Regions from separate parts of the Homo sapiens genome. Here regions 2, 3 and 4 are each reported to be linked to region 1. Evidence: microRNA targets listed by miRTarBase, many of them from high-throughput screens and not tested one by one. Region 1 holds a microRNA gene; each other region holds the end of a gene's coding sequence.
What was found. The annotated mature microRNA hsa-miR-4287 reads UCUCCCUUGAGGGCACUUU and lies in region 1 at 1,862-1,880, shown strand. An mRNA with a match to its seed (bases 2 to 7 or 8) in the 3' UTR can be bound and repressed. Matches are read on the target gene's strand: a 7mer-m8 pairs with bases 2 to 8, a 7mer-A1 pairs with bases 2 to 7 and ends in A, and an 8mer does both.

Region 1 (3,126 bases):
GGTTTCTGAAAAACACCTCAGGGACATATGTTAAGATGTTCTCTTTAGTTTCTATAGAGAGTCATCAGAGGTTGACTCTAACTTCTTTGACTATTGCTTTAAGCTACTATTTCTTTCTTTCTTACCAAGTTGCTCATTTACTTCTTGGGGCTAGCCTAGAATTTCCCTTGAAGATACTCAAGATTTTCTTTTATTTCCATGTTTGGGGGCCTAGCAGCCCCTAAGTCCCTGCTCCATCTCGGGCTTGTGGTCCCCAGTTCTGGGGAAGCAGGGAAAAGATGAACAGAGATGAGCCCTGTGGATATCTGGGTGTCTCTGCTATGGGGGGCAGGGGTGGGCATTACAAGAAAAAGCTCTGCCAAAGCCTTGTGGGATGGGGATTGGAATAAGCTGTCAAGAACAGCCTCTCCTTGTTTTTAGTAAGGAATAGCTCTTGGTGTTTCCCTTCAGCTTGGGTTTTCCAGCCAAGTGATGCTATGTGCCGGTGCCATTCCTGCACAGAGCTGGTAGGGACCAGCCTTGTAGCCAGTACCATCCTCTTAACTTGCAAACCATGAAGGCATGGACAGGTAGACCCCAGTCTGCAGGTTAGGGATCCAGAACAAGAGGAAAAGTGTGATAGTCTCTGCACCTAACGCCCTCACCTGAGGGGTGCAAATCAGATACCCACACGGGAGTGGTATGGGGCAGGGTTTTCTTCCGGGTTGCTGATCCTCATTTGCTCAGGAAGGGTTTTCCAGGGCTCAATGTGGTATGATGCCAAGGAGGAGGTGAAGGTGCCTCGCAGTCATTGAAGGGCAGTTACTAGGGGACGTGGCTGCAACCTCGAAAGCCTGGGGTCCCATTGCTCATCACCAGCTCTCTTGCCCTTTGCCCTCTACCTGGAGCATCTGCTCTTGCTTTGGAGCCTAGGAGTCTCTGAATTTCACACAATCAAGAATCCCTGTCTCCCATTTTCCTCCACTGCCACGTGCAGAGAGAGGCATCTCCCTGACTCCAGTAGCCCCGTTCCCCCTGCAGGGACCCTCCTGGGGGGCATCTGAGGAAAAAACTCCCTGGACTGACAGGAAGAGTCTTGGGGAAGTCACGGACCAGGCTGAGGCTGCCTCTCAGTCACCACTTCTGATTAAGTCGGGGCTGACACATTGTGGGGCAAGAGCATTTCCCAGTGGTGGTTGGTGGCTTGGTGGGAAAGCTTTGACCTGGGGCAGAAACTGCCGGGAAAAAGCAGCATTTAAACCCTCTGCCCACAGAAACCCAAACCTCTTAAATGATGACGTCCTTCTCAGGCTAGAGGGTAGTCACTGTTGGAGGGCGTTGGTGATTCCCCAAGTGTGTTGCTGGAGGTGGCCTCATTGCTCAGCTCTGGGAAAGGCTCCTGCCTGCCTGCCTCCCCTATACCTCTTCAGGGGTAAAGGAGGCCAGAGACACAAGTTTCTGAATTTAGACTCTGAGTTCCTGAATCAGGGCAGCCTACATCATAAGCAAGTCAGACCTCAGCCTGTGGTTTCCCAGAGAGGTGGTAACAGAGCTGAGATTTTGTTGGGTGGGGAGAAAAGGATGCAAAATCCACAGCTTAGGGCCATGCTCTGTGAAGTGGAGCTACAACAAAATGTGGCCTCTGATTTGGGTGAGTCCAGGGGAGAAGGTGTGGCTTTCAGATTTGTGTTGACCCTGCTGGGGCAGGCAGCATCTGTTGACCCTGTGGGCAGGCGGCCCTCCACCATGGGGGGAAGCCCTGAGTCTAGGGGATCTGGGGACAGGTGGTGAGGAACAGGCCTCCATGCTTAATGAACCGACACTGGGGTCTGGGTGGAGTGGTGCCTTGTGCAGCCTCGCCCAGGTGCTCTCTAGTTCTTTTTCTCCCTTGAGGGCACTTTTCAGTTCCTGAGATCAATGTGGTCCCTACTGGGGAGACCATAGGAGCCCTGCAGGCCATGACTTTGCTCAATGCATGGTAAGCATGGGCCATGGGCCAGAGACATCCTTGAAATTGATGCTTTGCATCCCGTGATTATGGTTATCATATGTTTTCAATTTTTTGAAGGTGTCTTGTTTCCAAATATTCTTCTATCACTTCTATATACATTGAAACCTCTTGGGAATTTCAGTATTTCAGCATCCAAATGACATTTTCCAGACTTCCCATTGCACCCACCATGATCATCTGACAGCCATGTCCCCATTCTCTCACTTGAGATGTACGGTCATTGTAACAGCCTGAGCTCTGGGTCCAGAATCCAGAGTCATCTCAAGTAGAGAAGGCAGCAAGTATGTGATTAGAAGTGTTGTGATGTAATAAAGAGGATGCTGGAGATTTGGGGCCCTGATGTTGGATTCTCCATTCAGGTTGCCACCAAAGCCCTGGACTCTGGGGAGCCATGCCCTCCAGCCAGCACCTGCCCATCTGGGTCCATATTAATGAGTCCCTCCATTCATGCATGCCTTCCCTTTGCACAGGCTGGGTATCTCAGTGCACCGGGCCCTGTACCAGGTCACGTGATCCTCAGAAGGCTCACAGTGTCCTAAGAGAGTAAATAGCAATAGCAATTATGACACAAAGCTATAAGCATGTACCTAGAAGGGGCCCTGTTGGGTGTGGGGACCAGGGAAGGAGAAGAGGCATCTAAGCTGAGATCTAAAAGACAAGGAAAGCTTAGGCCAGAGTACAGAAAGGAGTTTTCTGAGGTGGGGGAGTCCACGTCCTTCCTCAGCTCATTCAGGTCTCCACTCAAGGCCTTCCTTCTCTACTCGTCCAAAATGGCACCTGCTCTCACTCCCCACCCTCTTCCTTGTTCACTTGTCCAAGACAGTACCTGCCCTCTCATTCCCTCCCTTGTCCACCTGTCCAAGATGGTGCCTGCCCTCTCTCTCATTTCCTTCCTTGTCCACTCGGCCAAGATGGTGTCTGCCCTCTCTCTCATTTCCTTCCTTGTCCACCCGGCCAAGATGGTGCCTGCCCTGTCTCTCATTTCCTCCCTCCTCCACTTGTCCAAGATGGCGCCTGCCCTCACTCTCCACTCCTTTGTTCACTTGCCCACAATAGTGCCTGCCTCACTCTGTACTCCCTGTGCTTCTGTTCCCATCTATGCTCTTATCACCGCTTGGCTATAATTATGGTTTTGT
Region 2 (3,126 bases), not on the chromosome of region 1:
AGCAATCAGATTCTGAAAGTGGAGCTGACAAGATGCGCTGATCTGGAATGTGAGGTGTGATAGAAGAAAGGCAGAAGGGTTGACCACAGCGTTTGAGGCCTAATCCAGCTATCCCCAGTTGAGGTGGGGAAGGAGAGCATCATCATCCCTGGACCTCATACTATGCAGTTCTCCATTTTATCTGTAATCTGCACCACCACCCTGAGGCAGAGCTTTCATTAATCCCACTTCACAGATAGAGAAATCCCGACTCAGAGAGGTGGAGTAACTTGCCCAAGGTCACACAGCCAGTAAGTGGCAGAGCCTGGATTCCAACTTTAGTCTTACCAACTCCAAAATCGGTATCTGTTCTGATGCACCAGGAAAAGCAAGGTTTGGGGCCCTAGGAGCAGGTTAGGTGGGAGAGGCAGTTCCTGGAGGAGAGGCACATTCCAGTAACCACAGAGGCCCCTGGAATGCCTGCAAAGAAAGTTCTCAGCATCCTACTCCGTGTTCCTAATCACCTCCTCCTTAAACCTGTTTCTGATCCATCAGCTGGCAGATCTCAGCTGTAATCATGGGGAAATGCTTTTGTCATCTCTTAAGTTTTCTTAATTCACTGACAAGGTAATAACGCCTCAGTCCATTATACACATTTTCTAAAGGACTTTCAACATTAGAATGCAAAGCAGGCTTCTCTGGCTTAGAAAAACCTGAGACTCCTGGGATTTAATCATCAAACAGATTTAGCCCCTAAATCTGTTTGATGATTAACATCAAACATTTCGTAAGAAAAAAACAAATGGTAGTGCGGCCAGCATGTCCAGGCCACCCAAATATGCCCAATTTCTCCCCTAAATAAACTCATTGCATTTAAACTGATATGAACTGATGGTCCCAGATGCATTCACTCAACAGGTTTAGTATCCAAATGAGTCTGCCACCATCACAGTAATCCATATGACTTGGTTGATATTTTTTTAATTATCATTATGGATTGAAAAGCCTTAGCCCATGATTTGGGATGTCCAATCCTATGTAGTTTACTTAGAACAGCTCATGCCACGTTCTGTGGCTGTGCCTACTTGGAGCCTGGGAGAAAGCGACACAACAGTGGAAGCCTAGGACTTGTGAATCTTTTACCATCTTGGAGCTTTGCTCTTTCCACACCATACCCCTTCAATACCACAACAAAAACCTGGGAAGCCAAGCTAAACAACCCTTGTCCTTTCCAGTCTTCCTCTAGCTCTCTGCTCTTGGTAAAACCTACCAGTAGGAGCAGATATTTGATCTGTCATAGAAGCTGTGATATTACACTCCCCAGATGTTTAACTCACTGGACTGAAGGCTCAAGTTACAGCTAATCAGGGCCTCTCTACACTACAGACCCCATGCCCCCCCACCCTCCCACCCCCAAGGAACAGGATCCTCGGCCCATGTGGCCAACTGAGATGGAGTAAGTAGGACCTACATTGGGCAGGGGATTCACTAAAATGGCTCCTGTAGGGTCTCTACACCAGTGGCTTAGAAGGCATGTGCTCTCAAAGCCCTCTGGGTCCATTCAGACTGAAGGATGCCTCCCCACAGTCCTCAAACACCTGTATCTCCTTGCCCCAGGGCCTACTTCCTTTCCTTACCAAGAGTTTAAAGAAAGTCTGCAGGAACCTAGAAACATTTCATAAGAAAAACACAAATGGCAATGTGGCCAGCGTGTCCAGGCCACCCAAATGTGCCTGATTTCTCCCCCAAATAAACTGTGGCTTCACTTTACTACTATATGAGGGAGACTAAGGTTACAAATTCAGCATAAATTTTTTTTTTTCCTGTTATCCAAATAAGGTCAGGAGCAAGAGACATACTATGGAGGAGAAGGTGATCAAGGCCTGCATCATGCCCACAGAAATACAATAAAGCCCTCACCCTTTCCTGTGTAAAAGATCCTTCTTGCCCAGAGAACTGGGTAATATTGTGCACTTGGCTTTGTAAAAATGTGTCACTGCAGGAAATTAGACCCCAAGACCAAAACCAGGCTGTAGCAAACTTTGAACTGAACCCAACCCCACCAGGGAGCTCTTCCCTGAGACCATGAGAGCTGCTGGCTGTGGTGGTCCCTGAGGTCAGGCCAGAAAATGGCAGGGAGAATGGTTAGTGCCTGGTGGATGCCTTCCTGCCCTGGAGGGGTGACTGGAGATAGAGACTGGGTTCCCATTCCCAGGGAAGAACTAGAGGGACCTGAGGGGTCATCCAGTCCAACCCCCTCACTTGAAGGCAGGGCAACTGAGGCCTGGTGAGGGTAGGATCACAGTTTAGTCAGTGGGGGTACTGGGGGTCACTCTGGTGCTGACTTCTCCCCTCATCATGAAGCCACCTCCCCCACCTTAGATGATCAGGGCTGAAAGGGACCCCTCCACGGCCAATCAACACCCTCACTCAGCCAATAAGGACAGCAGAGGTCCCTCACTCCCCAAGGCATGAGGGAAGAGGATGGGCAACCTTTCAAACAGCTCCCAATCTTGAGAAATGCCAAGAAACCTCATCCTCCAAGAGCAGCGGTTTCCAAACTTTTGTATTTTTAGCAGCAGAAGCCATCCTCCAAACAAAACCGTATGCAAAACCTCAGCTACAAAACAGATCAGTGGGCTGCTTGCCCGTGTGGGGCATGGGCTGGGCCCCGAGCTCTCCCTCCAGCACCCAGTACTTCTTCCACAAGGCCCTATGTGAGCTCAGTTTAAAACCCCAGGGCCTTGGCAGGGGTCAGGTGGGCGGGAGCAGGGGGTGGACCTTGTAGCACTGGAGCTAAAGCAGCCAGATAAGGTGGGCTAGTTCTTAAGACCTCTGGAGGGTGTGGCTAGTCTCTGAGACCTGGACAACTTCATTCTCCACCAGGGCCTGGCCCCCATCCCCATTGAGCTGTCTCATGCGCAGGTTAATGGAGCCGTAGGTCTTCCTGGAGCCCTTGCCGGGGACGAAGGTCCTCCGGCGGTACAGCTCGCCCTTGCACAGGGAGACCATGAGCAGCACCGACAAGAGCATGCCGCCCACCGTGAGCAGCCCGAGGCCTGCGATGATGCACCTGTCCAGGTGGGAGCCTAGGCGGGCGTAGTACATCTCCAGTCGTTCCATCTCCCGCGCTGTCACTGTGTCCGG
Region 3 (3,126 bases), not on the chromosome of region 1:
AGCCACTAATGAGCATGGTGTATTGAGCTGAGCAAGCTGTGGGTATTGGAATTTAACCTTTTTTTAAAATACGCACAACATTAAAAATCCTGTTTTTTCCCCTAGATTATTTGCAGGTGTCTTCCCTCGAATGGCAGCCATCAGTCTGGGAGGTTTCATCTTTCTGGGGGCTTATGACCGAACGCACAGCTTGCTGTTGGAAGTTGGCAGAAAGAGTCCTTGAAGCAGAGACAAGCCTCACCTCCACTTCTGTCAAGAGAGGGGCCTGCAGTGCAAACCCTCTTCCGCTGAGCAGCTGTCTGAACTATAGGCCCCAGTGCTGAAGACCAGTTGTGCTAAGATACCGGCATGGAGATTGTGCCATCCGTGGTATAGGCTGGCTGGTATGAAGTCATTGGCCTGTATGCCAGAGAGCTAAGAGAAGAAAACGGGGTCTGTGGCGGTACTCTGAACAATTTCCTCAGAACCTCTTAATAAATAAGTTTGGTAATGCTGAGGCCAGGCCTTTTAGAGCTTTCATTTGATCTGTATCTGATCTTTCATTTCCTGCCACCTGATGGTGGATTCAGCAGAAGGCAAGATGGTTATAATTCTAAAAGAATAGCTTGTTTGTTTGTTTGGGAAAAGGAGACTTGGGGAAGAGTTGTGTATGTGGGTGTTTCTCCCCCTAGTTAATTCCTGTTGTGTAAGGGTAGGCTTTGTTGAAAAAGAAAGAAAGATTGAACTACAGGTGCATAGCAAGCACTCTTTCTGGGTAACTAGGCTGCTGGTTTTAATTACCCTCAGATTTCACCCATAAAAACGCACAATTGTATTATTTTACAGAGATGTGTCCAGCGCCCCCTGTGGTGTGTGAGAGAAAGCAGCTGCAACTCAAGTGACTAGGTGGGCCCAGCTGGCTTCGTGCAGGAGGGCACGGTGGGTGAGCCATTCTCGCCATTCTCATGTCAGACTGAAAGGAGGGCCTGGGCCAGCTTTGAAAAGGCAGGATGAAATGGAAAGGTCACCACACTTAGGGATTTTAGACCTTGACTAACAAGCTCCAGGTGTAGAAAAATTCAAAACAAAATGTCAGGAATCTAGCAGTGTTGTCTGCCCTGGAGCAAACAAACAGTATGTGATTTTGCTTCGCCTATTTTTTTTTTCTTTTTTGGGGGAAGATAATTAAAGGCAGAATGACTGCGTTTGTAAAAGAAGGACCACCAACTATACTGACATTTATAAATGAACCTTTATTAAAGACACTTCAATGCCATTTGTTAGACACTTCAATATTTTACATGGTTTTCAATGTACACTGTACCAAAATTTCTATAAATAAATAACTTTGTACATAAAAGTAATACTCCCTCTTTCACATTGCCTCTCAGAAGCAGCAAATTCACATATTTTGTGGAAGTAAGATTAGTCAGTTAACTGTCAAGAACAAAATTCTAAATGTGCTTACCTTTTGAACAGTGATGACACCTGACAGTAATTGTTAACTATTTTCTCAGTAACTCCCTTCAGCTTTTGGCCAAAGGAACATTTGAAGGACCTTGTTTCTATTTAAGTTTTACTAAATGACACATTGGCACTCATAAGATGGTTAGCTACCAGTCTCAAAAGTGCAAATTATACCCAGAACCCAGGTCAAGGGCTGTCCTTTCCAGTCCCAGCTCAGTTTCATCTGTGCGAAGGAATGGCATGGACAGGCCTGCTCTGGGTCCTTAGTAGAAATAAGGTAGCCCTGAAAAGTCAGAACTTCCTCCTTTCTGTCCCCCAAGGCCAATGTAATACTCATTATATTGGCAAAACGAAAACATCAGTATAGAAAAATCCACAGGTACCAACACCAGCAGCCTTTACCTTAATTTAAAAGTCTCAAATAGCAATCGAATGATACTGAGAAGGCCACATTTGCTTTTATCATAAAATAAGAGGAGGAGGAAAGGCAGTGTTTAACTGTTCTGACCTTTTGCTTGTGATGGATTAACAACCCTCATTCTACGCCTTACAGACGGACAGATTCTACGCCTTACAGACAGACAGGACTTAAACCTAAAAGGAAAAGCCATTCACTGCAAGTGTGGATGGCACTTGCACCCCTGGCTCTACAGACAGGGAAGCCTGTTGCAGGGGCATCCACACATGAGCAGTGCTCACCTGAAGCTCCTTCCGGCGCATGTGGAGTCCCACCGCACAGCAGCCTAGGGGTCTATGAAGTGCAATATAAATCCAAGGCCTTCCATCCTTCCCACCCCGCACCAAAAACTCCTGTGAACAAATGTGGTTGTAGCCTCTATAAATTCCAGCCATGCGTTAAGGCACCAGAACTATTTCCCCACCCCCTCCAAAATTAAACAGCAACCTGATACGAAAAATAATATTGTCAAAATTGTATAATTTTTTTCTGTTAACCATGCACTAAAGATTAAAATAGCCTCTGTAAAAGATATATATGAAATCTCTGAAAACTCTTATGTACAATGATATCAAATACTTTTTTTGCCTTTTGTACACAAATCCCCTCTTGCGTTTACTGTGCTTCAGATCCAAGTCCTGTGAGCGACTGATACTCCACATGGGAGTTACAACTATGTACAGATGAGTGACGCTTGAACCCAAGCTTCCTCGCAGCCTCTCCTACCTCTCTTTCCCGTAGAGATTGGTATGACAAGAACTGAGGTAGACAAAACCTAGCTTTTTGGTGCCAACAGCAGTGGCACCCTCTGTTTCCCGGGGAGCTGTCCTGTCAGTGGCGTGGACTCGGGACTGGCGTCACATGCTTTGGGGAGGTGGCCATTGGAAACAAGCAAGTACTGGGCTTCCGCGCGCTCTGGACTGCCTGAAGTTAATGAAGATGCAGGCTGTAGCTCTGTGGAGTCCGGGTGATACAACCTTGCTAAAGTCCAGGAAGAATCCCCTACAAGGAAAGAACGAACCTGTCAGACCCCCACTTGACCGTTTAAGCAGCTCCCAACCCACCTGTTAGAAGACAGTCAAAAGTTACCTTTCCCATCTAGAGATGCCATTGGCTTTTTCTTCACAGCCGTCAGCATTCTATCGTGGTTACTGGGGTAGAGCGACCCTTGGCACTCGGGGCAGGACCCAGCGGCAGTCCTGCTGCACTGGTGATGTGGAGAA
Region 4 (3,000 bases), not on the chromosome of region 1:
TCCCTTAAACATCATTTTTAACAAGGGCTCCCAACTTGAGAAATATTCGTCAAAGTCTACACACTAAGTACCTAGAACCTCTCACAGATCTACTTCACTATCTGCTTCAAGTCTGTGGACGTTATTCCTTTCCTGGTGGGGCAGGGAAGGAAGGAGAGCAATTGGCCTCTGCTGGGGATCCCCTAAGTCTTTTCTGCAGTGTCCAGGAGGACCAGGAAGGAGTTGAGGGAACCTTCTGACCAGCTTCCTCACAAAGCACTCACTAGCCTGGCCTAGGTAGTTGCTCTCAAGGAGGTTTGATGGAGCTGTTAGGCCAAGGGTTATCTGTTCATATTCTTCCCACTCCCAAGGTTGAATTGGGGTAAAATCACAGGCAAGAGCTGATAAAGACATAGAACTTGAACGAAAAAAGCTATTGAGAGGTGAGCAATGCCCTCCTCCTTTCTCATTTTGTCTGCTTCAACATGAACGCCAGGATTCAGTGAAATATTCAGGAGGCGGCCAGTTTAGATGATCCGATCAACCTTGCTTGCTAGGTGGCCTTGGGAAGAGTCTGCTGCATTGTGGACGGGATGGCCGTGCGAAGTGCAGCTGGTAACTGGTTATACACTTTAGCTAAGATCAACAGTTTTGAAGGAAGCCACCAGAGGGGCTGGTGTAATACTCGATGACTATTCGTGTGTCGGAATGAGAAAAGGGTTGTTTGTTTGTTTCCTTGCTTTTTAATGGTTCTTAGATGTGGTCAGCACGTACAGCATTCCGTTATCAGAATACAAGATTCTTGCTGAGACGGATCCCTTAAGCTGACAGGAAAATTAGCATAGCTTCCTGCTCCTTCTCTGTCCTGCTTCCCTCGGCCAAAATCCCACACCATCCCTCCGAAGTAAAGGCTGCAGCTTTATTTACACAATACTAAATGATTTATCCGAACACATGCAGGCCTTGGCCTGTTTCGATAAGTGCAATTTCTCTGGTGGATTCTGCCATTCTGCATTTCCTCTCTAAACCATAATGGTTTTCTTCTGAGTTGGGAAAAATATCAAGCACTACATCCAGGTGATATTGATCCACGGGCACAGGTGGTTAGCATTTTTGATGAAGAGAACAGGTTTGCTTTTCAAGGATTCAAAGCTTCTAATTATATTCCAAAGATAGTACGGACCAGTAAGTGCCTATGAAGTCTTGAGAAAAACATTCTGCTTTGTGACTGGGGGGAAACGACCTCAGCTTGGGCAACTTTTAAGCCTGATCACAAATGAGCTCATTTTGAACGCAATTCCTGGTTACCTCAGACAGAAAGAAATGAAAGAAAAAAATCACAAAGCATATTAGAAGTTTGAATACATAGTGAATTCAAGAAAGGCTTGCTAACATTTGTTAGTTAAAAACCCAAGCCATTCCTTTTGGAACAATCTGCCATCCTCTATTCTTTTAAAGGAGGTTAGGGAACGTTTTCCGTGAAGTTTATCTCTGGTGGACCCTCCTATAGGACTCTCCCATATTTATAATCACATTTGAAATTTCACACTGATGGAGTCATGTTCTTGCTCTTACTGAAATATTCATGGTCTCTTTACATACTGGAATGTATGTGGAGAGAACCTTGTCAGACCTTTTGCAAGTATGAGGACTGCTTTTGGCAGTGCAGATATTAAAACCGAAAGGATACAGAGATGCTTACACAGGTCAGGGAAGACGAGGTCACAATTAAATCCTGTACCAGGGCTCACTTTGCCAGCAGATTCTGGGGAGTATGGGATTTGGGGAAGGCAAGAAAATATTTCTTGTAGCCAGTAATCAAAGTTGTGAACAGTGAATACTGGGCAGGCTCAGCAAAAAAAATATCTTTGGGTTAAAAAAAAAATTATGCAATAGAAAAACAGGGAAAGTGCTAAGTCAATTTCCTGTACAACCGACATTAAATACCGACCTTTACAATGAAAGCACTCAGGCAGGTTGATGACTATATTCATGAGGCCTGTGTAGGAACAGGGCTGGCTTGCTGGACGGGGTCACTGACTCCATCCCCTGCTTTTTGCTGCATTTTTATCCTCAGACATCACAGAAGAGCTTTTCAGCAACAAGAGGCGGGTGACAAACAGAAGCTCTCGTGACTGACTCATCATGTCCTCTCCCAAACCACGGCCCTTGACACGTCCAGAGGGCTAGGAGTGTCACTGGGGCTATTTTGGCTAGTTGATGACATTAGCAAAAAGGTAAATAAACATTCACCTTCCCCTCTAAAAAACGAATCTGGGTGAAGACAAACCTCGAAAAGGAAACCAACCCACATGCAAACAGGAATAGAAAATATTTTTACACTCTTTGCACTTCAGCCCAACGGCGGTGAGGGAGAGAGAGGGTCACCTGGGGCCTGTCAGCGCAACAGAATGATTCATGTGACCATTTTGTCTTAATTACTCAGAACAAGCTGTTGTTGCTGTTTATCAAGGGAGAGCAGATACATCAGTGTCTTCTGACAGAAAAAGTGATCGCCATCAGGATGGTGATGACCACGATGATCCCTAGGATGACGAGCAGGATGCGGTTCTGGATGATTCTAGGAGACAGCAAAGGAGAAAAAACACACACAGATAAGTGGAAGGCCTTCCCACAAACGCCGTCCGAGGCCAGGTTGGCTAATCAAACGGCAGCTTTGCAGGTGGGGGTGGGGAGCGTGTGTGTGTGTGTGTGTGTGTGTGTGTGTGTGCGCGCGCGAAAGAGACATCACGCAGCTTTCTGGTTCTACAAACGATCCACGAGGAAACGAAAGGCTCCACATGATTGTCACGCTGCCCTCCGAGAAATGCTTACTGCAAAGCTAAGGCGAATCAAATGGCTTTCGAGGCTCAGAAAATCATGTAGCCTCTTTAAGTGATCAAGGGCCCCTTGCGAGCTTCTCTTTCTAATTTAAAAGGCGAGACAAGCCTCATTTTTTGCAGTGTTTCCTGTTAAAGTAAAATACTCCAAGGAAACACATGTCAGCAATGTACTTACCTG

Region 2: the mRNA of TMEM74B is a reported target of hsa-miR-4287. Seed matches in the 3' UTR shown: 7mer-A1 at 2,657-2,663.
Region 3: the mRNA of LRIG1 is a reported target of hsa-miR-4287. Seed matches in the 3' UTR shown: 7mer-m8 at 1,500-1,506.
Region 4: the mRNA of VTI1A is a reported target of hsa-miR-4287. The part of its 3' UTR that is shown has no 7-base or 8-base seed match.

Annotation. Positions count from the first base shown.
Region 1 is chr8:27,884,842-27,887,967 of GRCh38, reverse strand. It overlaps MIR4287 (microRNA 4287), which reads left to right and starts at 1,852; the gene lies at 1,852-1,929. All of the region lies in intron 7 of SCARA5 (scavenger receptor class A member 5), which reads left to right.
Region 2 is chr20:1,178,043-1,181,168 of GRCh38, forward strand. It overlaps TMEM74B (transmembrane protein 74B), which reads right to left. Exons shown (of 3, transcript NM_001304748.2): 3 at 2,528-3,126. The coding sequence ends at 2,806. It overlaps LOC124904855 (a long non-coding RNA gene), which reads left to right. Exons shown (of 2, transcript XR_007067486.1): 2 at 1-1,910. Among named protein-coding and RNA genes, the nearest start is that of TMEM74B, 5.4 kb to the right of the region's middle.
Region 3 is chr3:66,377,585-66,380,710 of GRCh38, forward strand. LRIG1 (leucine rich repeats and immunoglobulin like domains 1) reads right to left here. Exons shown (of 19, transcript NM_015541.3): 18 at 2,993-3,126; 19 at 1,213-2,905. The coding sequence ends at 2,679. SLC25A26 (solute carrier family 25 member 26) reads left to right here. Exons shown (of 10, transcript NM_001379210.1): 10 at 106-1,339. The coding sequence ends at 223. Among named protein-coding and RNA genes, the nearest start is that of LRIG1, 120 kb to the right of the region's middle.
Region 4 is chr10:112,814,850-112,817,849 of GRCh38, reverse strand. It overlaps VTI1A (vesicle transport through interaction with t-SNAREs 1A), which reads right to left. Exons shown (of 8, transcript NM_145206.4): 8 at 1-2,560. The coding sequence ends at 2,467. Among named protein-coding and RNA genes, the nearest start is that of LINC02935, 75 kb to the left of the region's middle.